Homo sapiens: one gene and its partners. The protein of the gene in region 3 purifies or fractionates together with the protein of the main gene of each other region. This does not show direct contact. Each region holds a gene or a part of one and is shown on either strand. Other genes may lie near its edges. The genes, in order: FAM162A, RAB7A, VDAC2 and NDUFA9.

Region 1 (4,696 bases), on a different chromosome or scaffold from region 3:
ACTGTTAAGCTCACTTAATCACCCCCATAACCCTAAGAGGTAAATAGTTTTCCCAAACTCACACAGCTAACAAGTGGCAAGATAAAAATCTAGACCCAAGTTTGCAGGTTACCAAACCTCATACTATACTATCTTGCTATTAAGCCATAGTTATTTTTATATTCAGCAGCTTTGGTCAAATTCTTCTTTTAATACCATGTATAATTCTATATATCACAGCTTCCATGTGGAAAGTGATGTCTTACAACTACTTTAAGATACTAAAAAGGTCCTTCTATACACGCACTCTTAACTGACTTTCTTATCCTCAGTAATTCCAGAGTAAAAGGAAATGTACTTTTGGCTGTCTTCATTCTTGCAGTTAAATGGAAATACTGACCATTTTAGGCTGACCTCATGGGAGTACGAAGGGGCAAATGTGCTGAGCTGGGTGAAGTTCTCTTGAAAACTCTGTTCCCACCCCACTTCATTTTTTCTTGTCTCCCTCTTTGACCTCTCATGCATAGTTCTCAGATTAAAACCAGCAGAAACATGTGGACAGGACTGTGAGCTTCTAGGATTCTGAGAAATTTGCATTGCTTTTGTATACTCGATTGTACTAGCTGAGTTTAAATACTCCAGAAGCAAATTATTCACCTGGAATCTCTTCTAGCATCATCCAGGGGTATATGCTGTGTATTTTAGAGAGTTCTTCTCCTGTTCTTTACCATAAAATTGTAACATTTTAGTTTTATGGAATTTCTGTTTCCATAAATACTACTGGAATGGAGAACTTTTGAACTCAATGTGATTTGGAAGAGAAAAATTAGCCATTGTATATTTTGCTCTCACCATCAACTTCCCTTTCTCCCCCCGCTCCCCCACCCCCCGCCACATACCCAATTCTTTTACATATGAAATTACACAGATAGAAGGAAATATCAGCTTAGGGTGCTAGTTTCACTATTTGGTATAAAAGTGTTGAAACTGGCCTGTATGTAAGCTTCATAGAAATCTGACCGTTTACATGGAGGGAAACAAGGGAAGAGGACGGTTGCCTCCCCCACTCAAAGGTTGGAATTGTAGTACAGATACTCGTGGAAATCATCAATGGTAGTATTTGGGTAAAGTCTGGGATTCCCAAAGCTGAATGTTTTTGGTAAAAGAGAAGTGAGGAACTAGAAGGATCTGAGTATGCAGATAAGTTGGGGAAGGAGAAATGGCAGCAACAGAGAAAAGTGAAAGAAGAAAAACGGGATAGAAATGGCAATGAGAAGGTATTTAGTATAAAAGAGAAGTGGGGTGGAATGAGAAGAAAGTATAAGAGAAAAGGAGAGGATAAAGACTGAAAGAAAGGGGCCAGAAGGGAAGAAAAAGGAGAGGTGTGGCACTTCTTACTTATGCTTGAGTGGATGAGCTGCTGTTCTTGGAAGCGTACGAGGAAGTTGAAGCACATAGAGGAAACTGCCGTGCTCAGTGTGCAAGCAGCAGAGGACTCCATGCCTCCATGCCTCTGTTAACCTGCTGTCATCAGTGCAAGGTAAAGACACCCTCCCCTGACCAGCATACAAATCACCTGTTCAAATCTGTTTTGCTTTAGGCTGCCCAAAGACACGAGACTTTAACAAGCTTGAACTTAGAAAAGAAAGCTCGTCTGAAAGAGGAAGCAGCTATGAAGGCCAAAACAGAGTAGCAGAGGTATCCGTGTTGGCTGGATTTTGAAAATCCAGGAATTATGTTATAACGTGCCTGTATTAAAAAGGATGTGGTATGAGGATCCATTTCATAAAGTATGATTTGCCCAAACCTGTACCATTTCCGTATTTCTGCTGTAGAAGTAGAAATAAATTTTCTTAAATAATGACTGTGTTTTATTGTTTTGATCCAAGTCAAGTGTAGCCTCTCAGCCTTTTGGAGAAAAATGAAACAATTTATTTCAACTTGAATACCAACTCTTCAGAGAAGCAGGTACCATATCTTACTTCTCTTCCCATTATCAAAGTAACCTCTCCACAGGCGAACTCATTTTGAGGAGATAAGGAAGGCCAGTTGAGTATATGGCCCAGGTGCAGCTTGGAGGGCCAGCCTTCTCAAATGTCCTGGTGTACTGGTGGGGAGGCTGCCCCCTAATAGAGCGAGCGCTGAGAAGCAGCCAGACCACATTCTATAATCTTTGAACATGCTGGCAGATGGAGGCTTTTAGGAGAATAGTTTTTTAAACATTCTGACAAGGTCCAGCCAGGAATTTCTAAGGACTTAGAAATCCCAGCGTCATGGAGTTGCTTGGGGTCAACACAAGTCACCTCTTAGCTTCATGCCTTAGAATTCTCAACTGGCTGTTTTCTTACCACCTGAGAAACTAAATTTCTCAATTATAAAAATCTCATGTATTATTACTGTTAGAAGTATTTGCACCTCATATATATCTCATTTACAGTTTGACCTTGGGATATCGAGTTGTCTCATATTTAGGTATGAATACAGGTTTCTATTTTAAACATTGATTCTCACATGCTTCTTAATTATTCATGGATGACAAGCCATTATAGTAGTCCCTTCTTATCCACGGCTTTGTTTTCTGTGGTTTCAGTTACCTGAGGTCTGAAAATATTAAATGGAAAATTCCTATAACAATGCATAAGTTATAGATTACATACCATTCAGTGTAGCATGATGAAATCTCTTGCCAATCTGTTCCATCCACCTGGGATGTGAATCATCCCTCTCTCTGGTGTATTCACACTGTATGTGCTAGCCGTCTCTGTTACGAGATCAGCTGTCGTGGAATCAGTGCTAGTGTTCAGGTAACTCTTATTTAATAATTGCCTCAAAGTGCATTGTGCTGTGCCTAATTTATAAAATAAACGGTATCATAGGTATGTATGTATACGAAAAACATAGTATATGCAGGGTTGGGTACTATCCACAGTTTCAGGCATCTACTGGGGGGTCTTGGAATATATCCCCAGAGGGTAAGGGGTGACTACTGTATACAGCCATGCCAACATGCTGGTTCTCAGAGAGTTATAAGAGAGATTAAAAATACATGCAGCTGTTTGGGCACTTTCTTCCCAAATAAAATACCCAGTAAAATGTAACATACTACCTATAGCTTGATAATCTATCTGAGGATGTTTATGATGTCTGTCTATATACTTTAATTTGGCCTTAGCTTCTTTGTAGGTATCAAGTTATCACTTGCAAATTTATTTTCAAAAAGCATAGTTTCTTGTACATTTTAGAAGATTAGTTTTTCTTATTTTGGGACACCTACACCAATGTTTTAAATGTGGATAAATTTTAATGTGGAATTTCTTTTAAAAATAATCCTCTTCATAGAGCAATACAACAAAAATGTGTTGTATCTTGGAGATTTACATTATAAATGTAGTAACATTTATGAGCTTAAATTTAATGAAACCTTTTTTTTTTTTTTGAGACAGTCTTGCACTGTCGCCCAGGCTAGAGTGCAGGGCATGATCTCAGCTCACTGCAACCTCCGTCTCCCGGGTTCAAGCAATTCTCGTGCCTCAGCCTCCTCAGTAACTGGCATTATAGGTGTGCACCACCACACCTGGCTAATTTTTGTATTTTTCATAAAGACGGGGGTTTCACCATGTTGGCCAGGCTGGTCTCAAACTCCTGACCTCAGGTGATCAGCCTCCCTCGGCCTCCCAAAGTGCTGGGATTACAGGCATGAGCCATGGTGCCTGGCCAAACGTTTTTATTACAAATATTACATTAAACTAAAGCTCACAACTGTTATTATGCATCAGGAATTAACAGTCATTTCTCATTTGTGTTATTCTCCTATTTGATAACATATAGTGACTATCTCTTTATGGGTTAAATATCAGTTTCTTGGCCAGAATTCAAGATCTGCCCCTAACTAATCCTACTTCTCCCAGTACCCTTACAGCACTCCTACCCTACTAGTAACTCTGATATCTCATAGTCCTCAGATTTATCAAGCAAACGAAACTGAATGAGCACTACTATAAGGTACCACAAACTACAAAAGGAGACAGTTTTGCCCTTGTTGCTTTCAGTTAAATTATTGTGCTATTTTTTGCTTAATTTCTAGGTTTTTTTTGCGTGTTTATCATGTCTCCGTAGGTAAAGTGGGCAGAAATCTTTTTCTACTTTACATTTCCTGTAAGTGCTGTTTGTTTGAATAAAGTTAATGTGTGAGGTTACGGTTACTTTTTATTTTTAATCAACATGATAGTTTTGGGAATTTATTACTAAAATTTATCAAAGCAGGCAAGGAATGAAGTTGTATCCTTCACTGTCAAACATTACTTGAGTCCCTTTACTACACAAAAAAGCCAAAGAATACAAGAATACAGAGACATACTTCCTGATTCCACAGAACTCATAATCTGGAAGCACAGCCCATGAAAGCATTTCAGTACAAACTGGTAAATAATAGGGACAGGAAAACCTAACTAACTCAGCTGTCAGCTGTGGTTGCAGGCAGGCCGGCAGTGGATGGTTCCTTCAGTGATTTCTGAACTGAGTTTGAAGCATGGGCAGGAATTAGTAGGTCAGACACAGAACAAAAGAAGAGCAGTCTTCATCAGACATTTAGCTTGCCTGAAAATCACAAGCACAATCTAAAAAGGTAGTGAAAGGTCCTTGAGAAACACCATTTATAATGTTGTTTTGGTTTTTGAAATTTTTAGACTCTTAGAATGAACCTAACCTTGGCGTATTT
Region 2 (7,043 bases), on a different chromosome or scaffold from region 3:
ACACAGTGGCTCCAAGATACTGAGCATGACCTTTTAGTCCATTTCCTCATCTAAAAAAAAAAAAAGAGACAAATCAAATGCTGCTTAAATTGTGAAGTTTAAACAAGGTAACAACCTCTATGAAATGTAAAGACATTGTTTATGTACTTTGCTCTGAGTACTGCATTCCTGCTGGGAGGGAAAAGGCAAAGGCAACTTACACAAAGAAGAGTGTCTTGGAAGGCAATTCTTGTGAAGAGGACTTCACTCCTGGATCAATAGATTCTTCAATACGATGCACCACTGTCATCAAGCTTTCTGAACCCAGGTACTAAGCCAAAAGTTTAGTCTCTAACGAGAGACCAGGATGATTCCTGCCTTTTTTTCTTTTTGGTAAGGCAAACTGGAAAGCAGATAGCTAGTAAAACAGTTACATAAGAACTATCTTCGATAGTTTGATATCAACCCTAGATTATCTCAGGCATTTAACCAGTAAAACAGACTGCCCATAAATTGCTAAGAGGAGCCCACAATGGGCTGGCTAAAGAGGAAAACCAAACTAACTGCTCTCTTCCTCTATCCCACCTCCCCTAACCAGCTCCCATGTTTAACTTTTCATTAAAGCCACTTCTGAAGAAGCAACTCTCTGAAAGTTTAAGCACAACTCTTGTAGTATTTCAATCCTAGCCCACTAAGCTCTTAATGTATGGTTTCTTTAGACAAATTACAACATCAAAGCCATTCCTCACCCATAACTGGGGTACTATCTGACTTAATTGTGAGGTTCAAGTGACAGGATTATGCTGTGTCTATTCCAGCATTACAGAGTGAAGTGCCACTTGGTTGAACTTAAATCCTCTAACAAGGGATTGCAGTGCCTGCCCTCCCTACCAGGATCTGGTTTCCATACATACAGTCATTCCCAAATTAGAGCTACTGCAATCCCTACATCCATTCATTGACTTATGCCATTCTTTCCAACTATAATGGTTTCCCAACTCTCACCTGCCTACCAATTTATTTAAAAATCCACTCAACATGCCCCTCACCACCCCAGGCATTGAACAACTCTAAACTAAGTAACTCTCATCTGCCCTGTATTTACAATTATTCCTGAATAATTCTCCACAGGGGCCAACAGTGTTTTCTTATAGTAGAGAAGAAAAACCTGTTAAATGAACACAGAACACATAGTTCATCATTCAGGAAACCCACATATATTAACCACTGACCCAGAAGCATAACTTACATGCTATAAACGGTAACTTACTCTGAAAAGCTAGAACTGGAAAAAATTTAAACAAAAGCTTAGTAATATTTCAAGATCCATTCTAGAATAATGATTCATCCTTGTCCTCAAGTGGCTTAGAGTTGGAAGACAGGCAAAGTCATGTAATATTATTTCAATCAAACTAAGGTCTATAATGGATACACAAAGCTGAAGATCACGCAGCCAAAAGGCTGGTGGTGAAAGGCCCACTAATATCTGAAGGGTCAGTCAGAATATGCAAAACAGACCTATTTCTAGCATATGTACGATAGAATGTGATATTCTAAGGGCTCAAGTGTCTGACCAAAAAAGAGAGTTGGAATGAAAGCACCATCTACTATGGTTAGATCTACACCCCACAGATTACTCTTTCACAGGCCAATTCCACCACCAGGAATGGAGTCCAGACTATAAAAGTAAGCTATGGGCAACTATGGAAGACTAACTGCTCATTCACTGGACTGAAGCGGTGTTTTCCTTTCTTTCTTTTCTTTCCTTTTTTTTTTTTTTTTTTTTTTTGAGGTAGGGTCTCATTCTGTCGCCCAGGCTAGAGTGCAGTGGTGAAATCTCAGCTCCACCTCCCAGGTTCAAGCGATTCTCATGCAACATCCACCTCCCAGGTTCGAGCGATTGTCATGTCTCAGCCTCCCAAGTAGCTGGAATTACAAGTGCCCACCACCACGCCTGGCTAATTTTTTGTATTTTCAGTAGACACAGGGTTTCGCTATGTTGGCCAGGCTGGTCTTGAACTCCTGGCCTCAAGTGATCCGCCCACCTCGGTCTCCCAAAGTGCTGGGATTACAGGCATGAGCCACTGTGCCTGGCCGAACCTCTGCTTTTAACCCCAATGGATTTAAGTAGCATTTACAAGAGGTAGTCTCAAACTGACACGTTTTACTCCAGGATAACCTTCCCCAGTCCCTTGAGGTTCCCCTACACTGGTGAGTAAACAAGCTGTACCATGGTGCCATAAAGAAATGGCTTTCTACCAGAGGGAACTAAAATTAGAGAGAAAAAGTTACAAGTGCTAGCAAGGATGTGGAATATTTGGACTTCTTATATACTGCTGGTGGAAGAATACGCTGGTACAACTTTTGAAAACTGGCCATATCTACTAGAGCAGAATAGATACTCTTATGAAGTGAACTGTGTCCACCTAAAATTTTTAAGTTGAAATTCTAATCCCCAATATATCAGAATGTGACTTATTTGCAGACAGGGCCTTTAAAGAAGTAACTGAGGTTAAGTGAGGTCATAAGGGTGGGCCTCAATCCAATACGACTGGTGTCCTAAAAGAAAAGGAGAATAGGACACAGCCAATACAGAGGAAAGATCCTGTGAAGATACAGGGAAGAGAAGACAGTCATTTACAAACCAAGGAGAGGCTTCAGAAGAAACTAATCCTCCCGACAGCTTGACCTCAGATTTCTAACCTTCAGAATTGAGAAAATAAATTTCTGTTTAAGCCACTCTATCTGTGATACTTGTTACGGCAGCCCTAGCAAATGAATACAGACACATACCCTAAAACTCAGTCTTTTTACTTAAATACATTATGATATATCACATAATACTACTGAGCAATGGAAACTCCAGTTACAACTGTACACAACAACACAAAGTCTCACAAACAACACTGAGTCAAAGAAACCAGATACGCAAGAATACACAGTGTATGATTCCATTTACACAAAATCCAAATCAGGCAAAATTAGTCTACAGTTCTAGAAATCAGAAGACTCACTACGCAAGCATCAGGGCATCGATGATAATGACTTAAAGGAGACTAAGAGGGCCTCTGGGTTTATAAAAATTCTCTAAGCCGTCCACTTATTTGTGCACTTTTCTGTATATATGTATGTTTACTAAAATACAGAAATGATAAATTACTTGGAAATACAGGCAACAATGTACTTATCCAGTGTTACCATGGCAAATAAACCTTACTCTGGAGCTGGATGCATCAGGTTCCTCACTCGTTACCAACAAACATTTGAAAAATACAGCTATTCCTATGATCCCCAGCTTCTCATCATTCAGTGTCTACTAGGAGAAGTATCACAGGTCACATCACCCAAGAGTATCTGGTCTCCTCCACAGTTAAATTCTCACATCATTTTTGGGGAGAGTTCAATTTCTTTTTTCTTGAGACAGGGTCTTGCTCTGCCACCCAGGCTGGAGTGCAGTGCCACGAACACAAACCACTGCAGCCTTAAACTCCTGGAATCAAGTGATCCTCCCGTCTCAGCCTCCCACCATCTGGAACCACAAGTGTACCACCACACCCACCTAATTTTTTCTTTTCTTTGTAGAGATGGAGTCTTACTTTGTTGCTGAAGGTGGTCTTGAACTCCTGGGCTCAAGCAATCCTCCTGCCTTACCCTCCCAAAGTGCTGGGATTACTCCTCCCAAAGTACTGACCACCATGCCTGGCCAAGAGTTCAATCTCATTAAAGGAAGGTATGAAAGTATACATTCAAAGGAAGAAAATAACCAGTTAACACTTTGGTCTTCCTCGGGGTAGTGAATCACAAATTTTCCTTCTTTATATTTCTGAATTTTCCTAGCTTTTTTTTTTTAACTGAATAGTTTAATAATCAGCAAAAAAGACGTATCATTTTAAATAAAAGGTAGTGGGCCAGGCGTGGTGGTTCACGCCTGTAATCCCAGCACCTTGGGAGGCCAAGGCGGGCGGATCACAGGGTCAAGGGATTGAGACCATCCTGGCCAACATGGTGAAACCCCATCTATACTAAAAATACAAAAATTAGCTGGGCATGGTGACGTGCACCTGTAGCCCCAGCTACTCAGGAGGCTGAGGCAGGAGAATTGCTTGAACCCGAGAGGCGGAGGTTGCAGTGAGCCGAGATCATGCTACTGCACTCCAGCCTGGCGACAGAGCTTGACTCTGTCTCAGAGAGAGAAAAAAAAAAAAGGTAGTGGAAGAAAGAGACACTTTTTTTTTTTTTTGAGATGGAATCTTGCTCTGTCGCCAGGCTGGAGTGCAATGGCACGATCCCGGCTCACTGCAAGCTCCGCCTCCCCAGTTCAAGCGATTCTACTACCTCAGCCTCCTGAATAGCTGGGACTACAGTGCATGCCACTATGCCCAGCTAATTTTTATATTTTTAGTATAGACGGGGTTTCACCACGTTGGCCAGGATGGTCTCTATCTCTTGACCCTGTGATCCACCCTCCTCGGCCTCCCAAAGTGCTGGGATTACAGGTGTGAGCCATCGCCCCCGGCCGAAAGATACACTTTTACAAGGGGTGAAATGTCGTGGTCTTTAGGGCACTAGCATATAATGGAAAGGCAGGATGGTACATCAGAAAGAGCACTGAACTGAGTTAGCAGACCTAGACTGACATTCCAGCTGAGCCACCTGAGCATACAGCCTCAGCTATTTCAGGCAGATACACACAACAGTTGTGAGCACCAAATGAAATCACATGTAAACTACAAATACCACAGAAACATTAAAAAGCATTTAAAGGCAAATGTGTAGGAAGGTTTCTACAAAATGTTATCGCTTTTTTAACAACCATTAACATGGTGCAGGTCAGAGGATTTAAGAGTGGGTTTTAAATGACCCGCAGTTATCTCAGGGATCCTCATATCTGTAAGTGAACAGAAGAACTGTTGGTAGGCTGACTGAATACCACATATAAGGGACACTATTTTTCATAAAGTCTATGCTTGGTTATTTAAGGTTAATTCATAGCAGCTTTGTAATTATGCACTCTCAAATAACTCAAACTACAAAGCTTATTCAATGGAAACCAACTTTTTATTACACTTACATACCAATATTGGAAATCAATGATGTAACTATTTACTTCACTAAGTAACTTTTAAAGGACTCCTGATCTGAGATGGTTAATGCCCAGCAGTATGAAGCAAAGCTGGAAAGGAAAGGCTGAGGGAGAAGAGAGAACTTCCTTTCCTTTATCTGGCAGCAGCCACACAAGAAGGACCAACTAAGAGACAAGCAAGGCTGGAGAATTCCTAAACTGCCCTTGTCCCAGGCTCCCCTTAAATAGGCTCCCTTGGATTTGCTTGGTCCCAACTGTAGACAGTCCCAGGACACCAGAAGTGGACAACAGAATCAGGCAAACTTAAATTTCTCAGCAGTGATGCCATCACCAAAACAGAGACTCCAGGCCCCATGAGTTAAGTACTGCATCTTCAAGCAAATGAACAAGGCCAATGCTGTAGGTCAGCATTGGAACCAACTCCCAAGCTTTCTTCCTCCCACAAGGAGATATTTTGCAAGTAGCTATTCTTAAATATGTTTTTGTAATCACAGCCTGGGATACTAAAATTGAAACTGGTAACAGACACTGCTAAAAAACTTGTTTTGATTTCACTCGCCACATCACTTTTACCTCTGATTCACAAATCGCAGTGACCACCACCATTAAGAAATGTTTTAAAAATAAGTTTTAGGCTGGGCATGGTGGCTCACGCCTGTAATTCCAGCACTTTGGGAGGCCGAGGCGGGTGGATCACGAGGTCAGGAGATCAAGACCAATCTGGCTAACACGGTGAAACCCCGTCTCTACTAAAAATACAAAAATTAGCCGGGCGTGGTGGTGGGTGCCTGTAGTCCCAGCTACTCGGGAGGCTGAGGCAGGAGAATGGCATGAATCTGGAAGGTGGAGCTTGCAGTGAGCTGAGATGGCACCACTGCACTCCAGCCTGGGCTACAAAGCAAGATTCCGTCTAAAAAAAAAAAAAAAGTTTTAAAACACAAACTATTTTTCTGTCTTTAATGCCATATGGAGTGTGGGGAAAAACAGAATAGAAGATTTAAGAGCAAATAACTGAAAAGATCAGCATATTGCAAAAATGTTTCTGCAGCAAACTGCAGACAGAGAAGCATAGAGAACTATTAGATAATATTAACAGATAAGCATGTGGTAACACAAAGGAATGGATGCCTGAGAATACAATGGTAGCCTTCCTTACATGAGAGGTAAGAATCATCAACAGCAAGCCAATAGCCAAAAAATAAGGGGGGAGGCGGGGAGTTCATTTCTCGAGTTTCAGTCGCCTTCAGAAGAAGACATTTAATGCCAAGGGGAACCTCTGTTTAGCCTTATTCAGGAGGACTTCTAATCCTTACCTCCCCAGGAAAAGCCTGCCTACAGCTCCAAGTCCAACATCTGGTCAAATCTATCTCAGCTGTATTTGTTGAATTAAATGAATGGGGAGATAAATACTTTATCATAGGAAAAACTAAAATATTTGTGTCAAATGCCAGAGAGGAATGTGCATAAGACAACTGTCATATTTGCGTGGTCTGTGTTTGCTACATCTTTGTTTACAAAGTCTAATGCCAAAGTAAGAGCAAAAACGTTATTAGTGAAGATCCCTTTGAAGACTTTTTTTTTTTTTTTTTTTGAGAAGAAGTCTCGCTCTGTCGCCCAGGCTGGAGTGCAGCGGCATGATCTCTGCTCACTGCAAGCCCTGCCTCCTGGGTTCACGCCATTCTCCTGCCTCAGCCTCACGAGTAGCTGGGACTACAGGCGCCCGCCACCACGCCCGGCTAATTTTTTGTATTTTTAGTAGAGATGGGGTTTCACTGTGTTAGCCAGGATGGTCTCGATCTCCTGACCTCATGATCCACCTGCCTCGGCCTCCCAAAGTGCTGGGATTACAGGCGTGAGCCACCGTGCCCAGCTGAAGACATATTAAAAGCTAATCAAATAACCAAAATTTTTTGGCTTCACTTGGCAGTGGGGTCAGAAAACTGATTCAAAGCCACACTTTACTATAAAGAGTTGTTCTCTG
Region 3 (4,196 bases):
CAGATGAAGGCCAATGCCACGCAGCCTAAAGGGGTTGTCTCTGGTCTCCTACCTATACCCACCTTTCAGTGTGTCTGCCTAGAAGGAAATGAGTAATGACCTCTCACAGTCCCTCAGGTTACCCTCACTGTCTACACCTTACTCCTCTTCTGTATGCTTAACACCATCTCACCAAACCAGGGCCTACTTTATGTTCCTAGCAGTAGCTCACAGGGGTATGGTGTGTTTGTGTAACTTTTCAGCACCTTCTCTTTTTCCTTTCAATGATGCAGGGCAATTCTGCACAGACTTACAAACTGTGCATGTAAAAGTGTAAAAGCATGTATCCTCTTATTGTAGTCTTAAAAAGCTCGTGGAATCTAGGGACACAGAAGATTCTGTGGCACAGATTTAGGTACAGAGCAAAATACTCACTGGAAAAATCAAGTATTGGCTAGCTACCACGGGGATTTGATCCTAGCTGGCAAACGTGGAACTCCGCAAATACTTGGAGCCATTAATTATGTATACTTGTTTTATTCATAATTTGTCATGTTCTGGGATACCAAAAGTAATAATGGCTGAACTTAACAAAATTTGTAACCTCATCTTAATATCCACTGATCCATCTCATTCAATGGTAACAGTCAATGTTTTCTAAAGGAACATAAAAACAAACATGCACACAATTGCACAGTTTTCATAAAGGTCTATTTCATTATTGGTGGGTAGCGCATTTAACAGTTAAATACATTTAAATAATGTATAGGTGACTGCAGGACTGCAGCATTGGTAACTAGATAACCAACTAGAAACCAGCTAACAAAGAACTGTCTAAATACTTAAAATACAGCTCTTGTTGAGATCATCCTTTGTTTTGATCATCTTCTTGGGGGAAAAAAGCCTGCTGCTGGTCACAATGGAAATATATTAAGGCCAAATCTTCTGATATCCATTCCCAAAGGTTTCTTTCAGCTGGATTAAGCCTCCAACTCCAGGGCGAGCCCAACCTTGTGGCCTCCAGCATTAATGCTCTTCCCATCTACCAGAGCAGAGAGTGTAAGCTTCACACCTATTAAGACAAAAAAACACAAAAACAAAAAACCGTGATGTACCTGGCACGTCACTCAGTCTGGGCCTTCTTTCACAGTCATCCCCAGAGCCTGCCTGTCACTTCCTCAGCCTGTCAGCTGACCTACTAGTGCTGGCCACCAGAGGGCGCTTGGAAGTATCTGAGACACCAGAAGAACTGGGTTACCATTCTAGCTAAGGCACCAAGTCACAGAGAAATGTTTTAATAACAACTTCAAAGTGTTCTAGAATATACTATAATGTTGAGTATACTATCCCGATGAAAAGAGACTAAAGACATAATCATAATTCGATCCTAGAAAGGAAAACCTACAATAAAGACACATTTGGGAACGGGGGTAAATCTGAATATGTATTTGGTATTACATTAATGTTAGTTTTCTTAGATGCGACAATGGTATTGTGCTTATAAAGAAAAATGTCTTACTCTTAGGATACACATGCTAGGGGCTGCCATGTCTGTATGTCTGCAAAACATACATTTTTTTAAAAGTATGTGAAGTTTCAGACATAAAATAAATGTAGTAAATGTTAATAATTGTTAATAAATTGTTAATAATTGGTCAATGCAAGGTAAGGACATATGATGTTCATTGTACCATTCTTCCAACTTTTCTTTAGGTTTCAAAATCACCAAAATAAACTTTGGGGAGGAAAATCCCTATCTGAAGGGGGAAGTCTCCAGTACTTTAAGCAGATTCCAAGATGAGTCATGTGCACTCTGAAGTTGGAGAAGCGCTGTTCTAGACACAGCACGCTTCAAAATATTATATAAAGTCAACAAGACTATAGGCAGAACCAAAGCAATGAGTGAACTTTGATCAACAAAATAAAAATTACTACAAAACATTTCAGATACAAGCGAGGAAACTGACAGGAAGTGGGTATTAAATAATAAGGAATCACTAACTTTCTTAGGTGTGATAGTATTATAGTTATGCAGAAAAGAAGAGACGGGCCTTATTCTGAAGAGAAGTGTCATGACCAAATGGCCCAGCAAAAAAAAAAAAAGCAAAGAAAAAGAAATAAAAAATTGTGGTAAAAGGTAAACACGTATTTATTGTACTCTTCTTTCAACTCTTCTGTGTGCTTGAAAGGTCTGAAAAGTAAGCTGAAGAATGAAAACTAAATTTTTTAATACTATCAAAACAATCCTACTTTATCAAGAATACTTACCAGGCCTCAGAGTCTGAGTATAGCCTACTCCAATTAAGCTAGAGTTGTTGACTTTTGCCTAAAATAAAATACAAAAACAACTGTAAGAAAAATATTTCAATAGAGACAAAGCCCCTACATGTTTCCCCATCATGTAATCATGAAGTGTTCAGTTTTATTCACGTGAGACAATAAAATTCAATATTATGTATTAAGCCAAACAAACCAGGTACTATTTAATTCGTATCCATTCAACTCAAAAATCAAATTCTCAGTAGGACACAATACTCTTGATAGCCACTGGAATGTATCCAAAGACCCCAAACTGTCCATACAGCACAAAAGCCTAAGCACTCTCATAAAAATCATCTTTGTTAATTCTAGTCTAGCACAACAAACCAGACCAAAATGTGGTACAAGTCAGGCTCACTAGAGGTGACACACAGCAGCCTTAAAGCACAGGGTATAAAGTTTAAATTCATGACTTAGTTACACACATTACTACTTCCAGGACTCTTCCTAAAGAATCAAAACCATGAATGTTTAAAAAAAAAAAAAAAATCTCCAAACGACAAGTAATTCCTCTGAAGAATCAGATCAAACAATCCTTTATCCTCACATTCTTACACCTCTCATAAATGCCGGTGCTGCTGAGTTCTGGCTGTATGTAACCACTGCGTTTGGGAGGAGGTCCCAGTGAGGTATCATGTACCAATCCAGGCCCCTGCCTTCCTTGCACAATCCCAACATTTTAGGACTTAGTTACCGACTTCAAGGGCTGGAATGAACCCTGAAGAGTAAGACATAGTAAAGAGTAGATTCTTTCTAGCTCCATTCTCTACCACCCCTAACATTATGAAGACACACCAGAGGCCAGGAACACCTGCCTTCATTTCCAGGGCCTAGGTTGCCTAGACATGCAACTTTGCTTTGCTTTCAGCATTCTGAGGGCTACAATATAAAGGTAACAAACAGACTATGTGACCAAAACAGATCTCCAAATGATTCGATGTCTATACTCTTATAATGTGTAACATCCAAAGAGCCCAATCCAGAGAAAGAAATGATGTAACTATACAGACACAAACCACATCCAAAACACCTGTATTCACTTGGCACTACAGCCAAATATTCATGAGCTACCAATGACCATCTAAAGAAAAAAACAGGCCTGGCGCAGTGGCTGACACCAGTAATCCCTGCACTTTGGGAGGCCAAGGCGGGAGGACCACTTGAGCCCAGGAATTCAACAGCCTGGGCAACACGGTGAGACCCCTGTCTGTCTGTACAAAATTTTCCTAGCTTGGTATGATGGTGCACACCTACCCAACTACCAGGGAAGTGGGGGGTGAGTGGAAGGATCTCAAGCCCAGGTGGCTGAGGGCACAGTGAGCTGTGATTGCACCAGTGAACTACAGCCTAGGCAACAAAGCTCAAAAAAAAAAAAAGAAAGAAAAATACCTCACTAATGACCATCTTGTACCCTACAAATAAGAGCCTCAGACAGCTGGATAGACATTCCTATTATTGGCCAGGCGCAGTGGCTCACGCCTGTAATCCCAGCACTTTGGGAGGCCGAGGCAGGCGGACCACAAGGTCAGGAAATCGAGACCATCCTGGCTAACACGGTGAAACCCCGTCTCTACTAAAAATACAAAAAATTAGCCGGGCGTGGTGGTGGGCACCTATAGTCCCAGCTACTCGGGAGGCTAAGGCAGGAGAAAGGCGTGAACCCGGGAGGCGGAGGTTGCAGTGAGTGGAGATCTTGCCACTGCACTCCAGCCTGGGCTACTGAGCGAGACTCCGCCTCAAAAAAAAAAAAAAGAAAGAAAGAAAGAAATTCCCATTATTGGCCGGGCTGGGTGGCTCATGCCTGTAATCCCAGCACTTTGGGAGGATCACAAGGTCAGGAGTTCAAGACCAGCCTGGCCAAGATGGTGAAACCCCGTCTCTACTAAAACTACAAAAAT
Region 4 (7,043 bases), on a different chromosome or scaffold from region 3:
GGGTCAGAAAAGTGTGTGGAAAATTTGAGGACAGAAGATAGAAAGTATGCCCTGGGAGAACAGGAAAGAGCATTTCCTAGGAGAACATGTGGGATTGCCAAGCAGAACTGAGTGTTCCATTGGAAATTACTGATAAAAAAATAAGGTGAAGTCAATCAGTTCAATTGTATTTCGTCTACAGTTTTGTCCTTCTGGGGTTTCAGGCTCAGAGAAGGCACATGTTTGGGTCAACCAGAGTGAGTTTTGCTTAGCAAGTATAGTGGGTAGGGGCCTGGGAGACAAGATTTTGCTGAGGATATTTGCAGAGGAATAACTGTGATGCTGAGCCTTGAAATCTAAGCTGGGAGGATGCGGGCTTCAATGTACCTTTGGCTGTGAGGAAGGGCACTTAAACTAGTGTTCCGGTTGCACTTGATGGAACACAAAGTGCTTCAGAACAGCTGAAAAGGAAACCTATTATGTAGAGTTAGTTAACCCATGATACCAGTTTTGTTTGTCATCGTAAAAATTCAAGTTGCTCTTGGCGTAGCATGTATTATATGTCCTGTAATGATCCTTACAAATCCCTCTGGAATTTGAAGAACCCTGCTAAGGCCTTTGTCTGATATTTCTCCTGGCTGATAGTTTCATGTTTTTTAGTAAAGTATGTCAGAATAATGAGGTTCTCACTGAATTACCTTCACTCAGCTCTTGGTTGTCACAGATTTACTGTCATGAAGCATGCAAATGAATTAGGAAATGGGTAAAGAAATATTAAAATGCATTATAAGCACTGATACTTATTAATGCTAGGTTAAAATCGTACAGAACTATTCAGATTAATGGAATAGAGCGGAACGTTCAGAAACAGTCCCATTATATGTAAGGATATAGTATGTGATAAGGGTGACATTTCAGTATAGGGAAAGAGGCAGTACAGTAAATGATTCTGTAAGTAGCATTGAAGCAATTGGCTTACATCTTGGGAAAAATATAATTACATGTTTACCTTATATAATGTACAAAAATACGTCACAGAAGGAACTTTATAGTAAAAAAAAAATCTTTTTTATAAGGTTTAGACAAAATATGTAGAAATTTATGTCACTGCAGAGGAATTTTCTAACTATGAATCCAAGCCATAAAGAAAATCAGTAGTTTTGGTTAAATTAAACAGTTAAAATTTTATGTGCACAAAACACTGTAAATAACACTAAAAGTTAAAATACAAACAATAAAAGGTATTTCCAACAATATCACTAAAATATAGAGAATTCTTACAAATTATTTTTATAGACAGGGACTCCAGGAGGAAAGAAAAGATAGATGTATAAATGACCAAAAATTCGTGAAGAAATGATCTCTCATATTAAAGACATAATAATTAAAACATGAGATACCTTTTTTTTTTTAACCTAGCAGATTGGCAAAAATTTTATTTTCTTATGACAACTCATTTCGGGTGGAGGGGGCATTCTTATATATAATTACATATATATAATTATAATTTATATAATTATCTAAAATGTTATATACTTAACATTTTATATAAATTGATAGAACCATTTTGAAAAGCAGTTTAGAAGTATTCAATAAAAGCCTTAAAATTTTAAAGTCTACATTGACCCAGTTCCACTTCTACAAATATATTCTAAATGCGTAATCATGGATAAGTACAAATATTTATTACAAGAATGTTCATTAAAACATTATAAAAGAAAAAAATTTTAATAGCATAAATATCTCAAAACTGGCAATTGATAAAATAATTGTGATTACATGCAGTGTAATATGTTGTCATGAAACATGCAATAAAATAATGATGTGGAAAGACGATTATGATGTAATGTTAAATGAAAAAGACATTACGGAATAGAATGGATTGTGTATTTATTAAAAGCAGAATAATGTATATATGTAAGGGGATGAGAAGGATATAGATCAAATATATTAACTATCTTTCATAATGGGATTATGGGTGATTTTTCTTTGTGCTATTCTGTATCTACTACAGTGCATATATGTTTCCTTTTTTATAAGGAAAATGTTATTTTGTTATAAAGGAAACTTTGTGAGAAGCGTGTAATTGAAAGAACTGTGTATTGTCTTTTTATAGTCCCAGTCGGTACCTCCTTTTCCACCTGGTGAAGTACATCTTTGCTGTGGCTCACAGATTGTTCCTCCCATTCCCCTTGCCGCTTTTTGCCTATCGGTAAGTAGAGTGCTCCTTTTGTGTGACTTCTGAAAAAGCCAGCTCCACACACTTGTTCCTAATGTTCTCCCTTAGGGTTATAGGGTGTGTGAAGGGCTGGTCTCCAGATCTCCTAGTGTTATGACATTAGCATAGAGAAGAAGCAGAAATAGATTAGTGTTGGTTAAAAAAAAATATATTGGAACATTAAATCTTCCCAATTCCCAAAAGTGAATCTTCCCACTTCCCAAAAGTGAAGATGCAGTTCTTCACTTTCTCCAATTTAAAACCATCGAGTTTAATTTTGGAGAAATATCTTGCTAGGCACATATGTAAGGGGCAGTCAGGTTCCCCTGTGTTTCATGTCGCTCATTATTAAATCAACCTGATCATGCTATTGGGGAAAGGAGTCAGGCTAATTCAGACTTGGATTTGTGGTTGCCTTCTCTTCTTTCCCTGCTTCTTAGTTTACTTCTTCTCTTTGTGGGTTAAATATCTTTGACTTGGCTGGGAGTGGTGGCTCATGCCTATAATCCCAGTACTTTGGGAGGCCAAGGAGGGCAGATTGCTTGAGCCCAGGAGTTTGAGACCAGCCTGGGCAATATAGCGAAGCCCCATCTCTACAAAACATACCAAATTAGCTGGATGTGGTGGCATCTGCCTGTAGTCCCACCTACTGGGGTGGAGGTGGGGTGATGCAAGAGAATTGCTTGAGCTTGGGAGTTCAAGGCTTCCAGTGAGCTGAGATTGTGCCACTGCACTCCAGCCTAGGTGACTGCTACTGCGCACAGTGGTGCACACCTATAGTCCCAGCTACTTGGGAGGCTGAGGTGGGAGGATCACTTGAGTTCAGGAGTTTGAATCCAGCCTGGACAACATAGTGAGACCCTGTCTCTGGAACAAAAAAAAAAAAAAGAAAGAAAAGAAAAACCTACTGCCCTGAGGTAACTGTTGATGGGAGCTCCTTTCTCGTCCTAGGTTTTATATTGTCCTGATTTGAACCAAATAAAATAAAATCTTGAACTTACCATGTCACACCCTAGTGGTCTGGTTAAGGAGACTGTCACATCCATTGTGCCACAAACTGATCTTCATTTGGGTTTTCATCCATTCATTCAACAAATGTTTATTGAATGCCTACTATGTCTTAGATAATGTACTAGGTACTCAGAAGGTTACAACAAACACTCAAAAATCTTATGGTCAGAATGTTACAACAAAAACTCAAAAATCTTATGGTCTAACAGGGGTACCAGAAAAATAGACCACTAGAATGCAGGGTGATAACGATATTTATTGAGTGTTACACCTTTCAGACTATTCACTTTGTCTCCTTTAATACTCAGTTATCTATAAAGTAAGTAAGGAGAGTATGTGGAGTGAGTGGAAGAGGAGGCCACAGAGTAAGAGAAACTTACAAGAAGGCCAAAAAGTGATCAGGCATTTAAGTGGGAAATGAGAGTTTGGAATTCTAGATACCAAAGGGAATGGAGTGTTTTCAGGAGAGAATCGATGTTTTAAGAAGGGGAACATTGCTGTTCATTCACATGTATCTCAAGCCCCTAGAACAATGCCTGGTACACATTAGGCACTCTGTTAATATTGGTAGAATGAAGTCTTACAGAAAAGTCAAATAAGATAAAGGACCAAAAAATGTCTACAAATGACCATTGTGACCGTGGCTTCAGTGCCGTGAAAGGGATATAAGCCAGATTGCAGTGAGGCACTTTCATGGTTGTATATAAAATTGAGTTAGAGTTGGCTTATGTATGCCCATGACATGGCCCACTGAGGACACTAGAATAGAGACCTGAAGTGATCTGTTAGCATAGAATGAGGGCACAGAGAGTTAGAGGTTTGTAATGAGTGTTTTTATTAAGCTATGTTAGCCCAATAAATTATTTTTTTCTGCCGTTGAGGAATCTGAGGCTTTATATGTTGCTGGAGAAATTCCAGCCAGCTTCCTTTTTCATTTATTTATACTATGCATTAGAATGTTGTTTTTCAAGCCTTTAAACGGCTGTGGAACCCTGTGCTCACTGAAGTTTTACGTCAAGTCCTGCTGGGTAAATCCAATAAAAGAGCTGGTCTGGTTGCAGTGATGGGTGATACTCAACGCATGTACTCCCAAACCCTTGGCCCCCCAGGACTCTGTGGGGCCCCAGCAAATTCCTAGTGTTCCTCAGATGCTAGTTGAAAACCCACTGCTACTGGGCACAGTGGTGTACACCTGTAGTCCCAGCTACTTGGGAGGCTGAAGTGGGAGGATCACTTGAGCCTGGGAGTGTGAGTCCGGCCTGGACAACATAGTGAGACCCTGTCTGTGGAACAAAAACAAGGAAAGAAAAGAAAAAGTCACTGCCCTGAGGTAACTGATGATGGGAGCTCAAGTGGCACGTAAGGAGCCCTTCAATTTTCATTAGCAGTGAAGAGATGGCAGTAATGAAGATAGGTGGCCTTTTCCGTTTTGGGTTTTATATTGTCGTCCTGATTTGAACCGTAGATTTTAGCCTTCTCCTTGCTTTTGGATTTTTTTTTTTTTCCTCAAGGGCCCCAGCTTTCAGGGGTTACGTTGTATATTTTACACACCATTCAGCTTGCCCTGCTTCTGTAAAGGCAGCATATTTGAATATCTGAGGTTTAGATTAAATTGAATTTCACAGACTTGATTAAATACTGGAGTTTTTCTGTTTGCTTTGTTGTTTGTTGGTTTTATTTCATTTTAAGTTTAAGATCTGTTGTTTCTTTGGAGGAGAACAAAGTGTACCAGCAGTTACAGCAGCCGACTGGGTTGGCTTGAGAGGAGATGGACCAAAAAGCAGAGGTAGCCTCACAGGTCGAGGTGGTTATTTTCTTAAAAAAAAAAAATCAGTTCAGACTGCTCTACAGCGGTCTGTCTTCCTGCAGTTCTCATAGGCTAGCTTACATCTTGGGCAGAGAGATGCTTATCACATGTGCTATATGTATTTCTCTTTCCAGATGGGTAGCAAGAGTCTTTGAAATAAGCCCATTTGAGCCCTGGATAACAAGGGATAAAGTGGAGCGGGTGAGTACATGTGTGGAAAGCGTCTGCCTGGGCAGATGATGAGGCGTTAGACTTATTTTGCTTTGCCTGCTTGCTTGTTTCCCGGCCCTTGTCTGTTTGCTGTTCTTGCTGTCTGCAGTCAGCCCCTCTACTAGCGCTGAAGCTCATCCACCTGCCCTGCTCCAGGGGGCGGCTCCTCCCTACTTTCTGTCCGTCATTATCAGTGTTTCTTTCTCTGCTTGATCACTCCTGTCAACACACAAAATTGCCTAATAGCTCCCCTGCCAAAGCCTCTCTTCCTCCCATCACTCTTCCAGCTACTTTCCTGTTGTGTCCCTTCACATCCTAACTCCTCCTAACTTCCTCCTAACGTCCTGAAGAAACTGTTGACAGTTTCTTCCTTCTTTCTTTAACCTACTCCAGTCAGGCTTTTATTCCCATTTCTCCCCTAAAATTGCTCTTTTCAAGGTTATCCACAATCTCCAGTCTCCTTGCTGCCACATCCAATGGTCAGTTCTCAGACCTCATGTCATGTGCCTGTGCATTTGCTTCTAGGGAGGATGCAAAATAAAATAAAAATACTATACCAATACCACATCTACCTTGGAAGACCTATGGACCATATATTGGCAAGAAGTAGCCAAATTGTCCCCTGAATGCTGCCTGAAAGCTAAAGTGTAGAGAAGATGAGAAAGTAGTGCTTAGGGAACATGTGGAAGTGGGCAACTCACATACTTTCTTCAGACATGGTCTATGAAAGATCAGGCAGGATCGCTGGTTGTCAGACACTTCAGTTTATCTTACACTAAAGTGTCTCTTACGTTTATACTTGAGAAAGTGTTGATACAGTGGCCTGAGTAGGTTTTGGATTTGGTTTGCAGACTGGCTTACAGCCCTCTGGTAAAAGAATTGCAGACTTTCAGGTGGGTAGGATGAGGGATTGCTGCTGCTCTAGGTGCAAATGGATTCTATTTATGTGGTTTTGAATAATAATCTGGGATGTTTGCAAACTTTACAGTTCATTATCTTTCCCTATAAACAAGATGGGTTTGGTTTTCTAGCTCTACAGTGAGCATTAGTCAACCAGGTTGAGTACAGCTGGAGCAAAAAAAGTTACTTGTTTTTTTTTTTTTTTAATGGGCAAGGAACAAATGTTGTGTTATCTCCTAAATTCAAAGTTAAAACTGAGTCAGAACGCCCGTGCTCAGAAAACAGGGGCGTGAGAGGACTGAGGAATGGACCAGCTCTGCTTAAGCCCTGATTTTATTCCTAAACCCTCCTGTTCAGCCTCCCCTGGCAAGTGTGGTGACTTGTGCTTCCCTGCCCTAGATTTATTTCTGTTGAAATCTGTATATAGAATGGCTCATGTAGTGCCAACATCCTGTGCTCGCGGCTGCCACTGGGGACCTCGATCTGATACTTGGTGATCTCGCCCTCTTTTGTCTTAAGCCCTCTTTGTGTGTTCTGCTTTTATAGTGATTTGCATGAATCGAAAATTGCCACATATTCTTTGAAAGCAATTAAGTCTCAATAATAGGACTCATGCCAGCTTGAATGTTTAAGTGCCTGCTAGGATAGCACTTTGTTCTCAGCCAGTTTTCAGCATTGTCTGTGGTCCTTTGTTTATCCAAAGATGCACATCACAGACATGAAATTGCCTCACCTGCCTGGCTTAGAAGACCTTGGTATTCAGGCAACACCACTGGAACTCAAGGCCATTGAGGTGCTGCGGCGTCATCGCACTTACCGCTGGCTGTCTGCTGAAATTGAGGATGTGAAGCCGGCCAAGACCGTCAACATTTAGTGCCTCCTGAGCAGCTCTTGGTTTTGGCGTCTTTTGGGTCGGCC

What was found.
Region 1: the proteins of VDAC2 (region 3) and FAM162A fractionate together in Homo sapiens (co-fractionation; 3 studies listed by BioGRID and IntAct, with this or other methods). This does not show direct contact.
Region 2: the proteins of VDAC2 (region 3) and RAB7A purify together in Homo sapiens (affinity purification with mass spectrometry; 3 studies listed by BioGRID and IntAct, with this or other methods). This does not show direct contact.
Region 4: the proteins of VDAC2 (region 3) and NDUFA9 fractionate together in Homo sapiens (co-fractionation; 2 studies listed by BioGRID). This does not show direct contact.

What each region holds. Positions count from the first base shown.
Region 1 is NC_000003.12:122,408,160-122,412,855, forward strand, and holds the end of FAM162A (protein FAM162A), read left to right. Parts: intron 1-1,579; coding exon 1,580-1,672; 3' UTR 1,673-4,175; downstream 4,176-4,696. UniProt on the Homo sapiens protein: Proposed to be involved in regulation of apoptosis; the exact mechanism may differ between cell types/tissues.
Region 2 is NC_000003.12:128,729,180-128,736,222, reverse strand, and holds part of RAB7A (ras-related protein Rab-7a), read right to left. Parts: intron 1-7,043.
Region 3 is NC_000010.11:75,227,753-75,231,948, reverse strand, and holds the end of VDAC2 (non-selective voltage-gated ion channel VDAC2), read right to left. Parts: intron 2,306-4,196; coding exon 2,248-2,305; intron 1,052-2,247; coding exon 960-1,051; 3' UTR 501-959; downstream 1-500. UniProt on the Homo sapiens protein: Non-selective voltage-gated ion channel that mediates the transport of anions and cations through the mitochondrion outer membrane and plasma membrane.
Region 4 is NC_000012.12:4,680,110-4,687,152, forward strand, and holds part of NDUFA9 (NADH dehydrogenase [ubiquinone] 1 alpha subcomplex subunit 9, mitochondrial precursor), read left to right. Parts: intron 1-2,095; coding exon 2,096-2,191; intron 2,192-5,149; coding exon 5,150-5,216; intron 5,217-6,828; coding exon 6,829-6,999; 3' UTR 7,000-7,043. UniProt on the Homo sapiens protein: Accessory subunit of the mitochondrial membrane respiratory chain NADH dehydrogenase (Complex I), that is believed not to be involved in catalysis. Required for proper complex I assembly.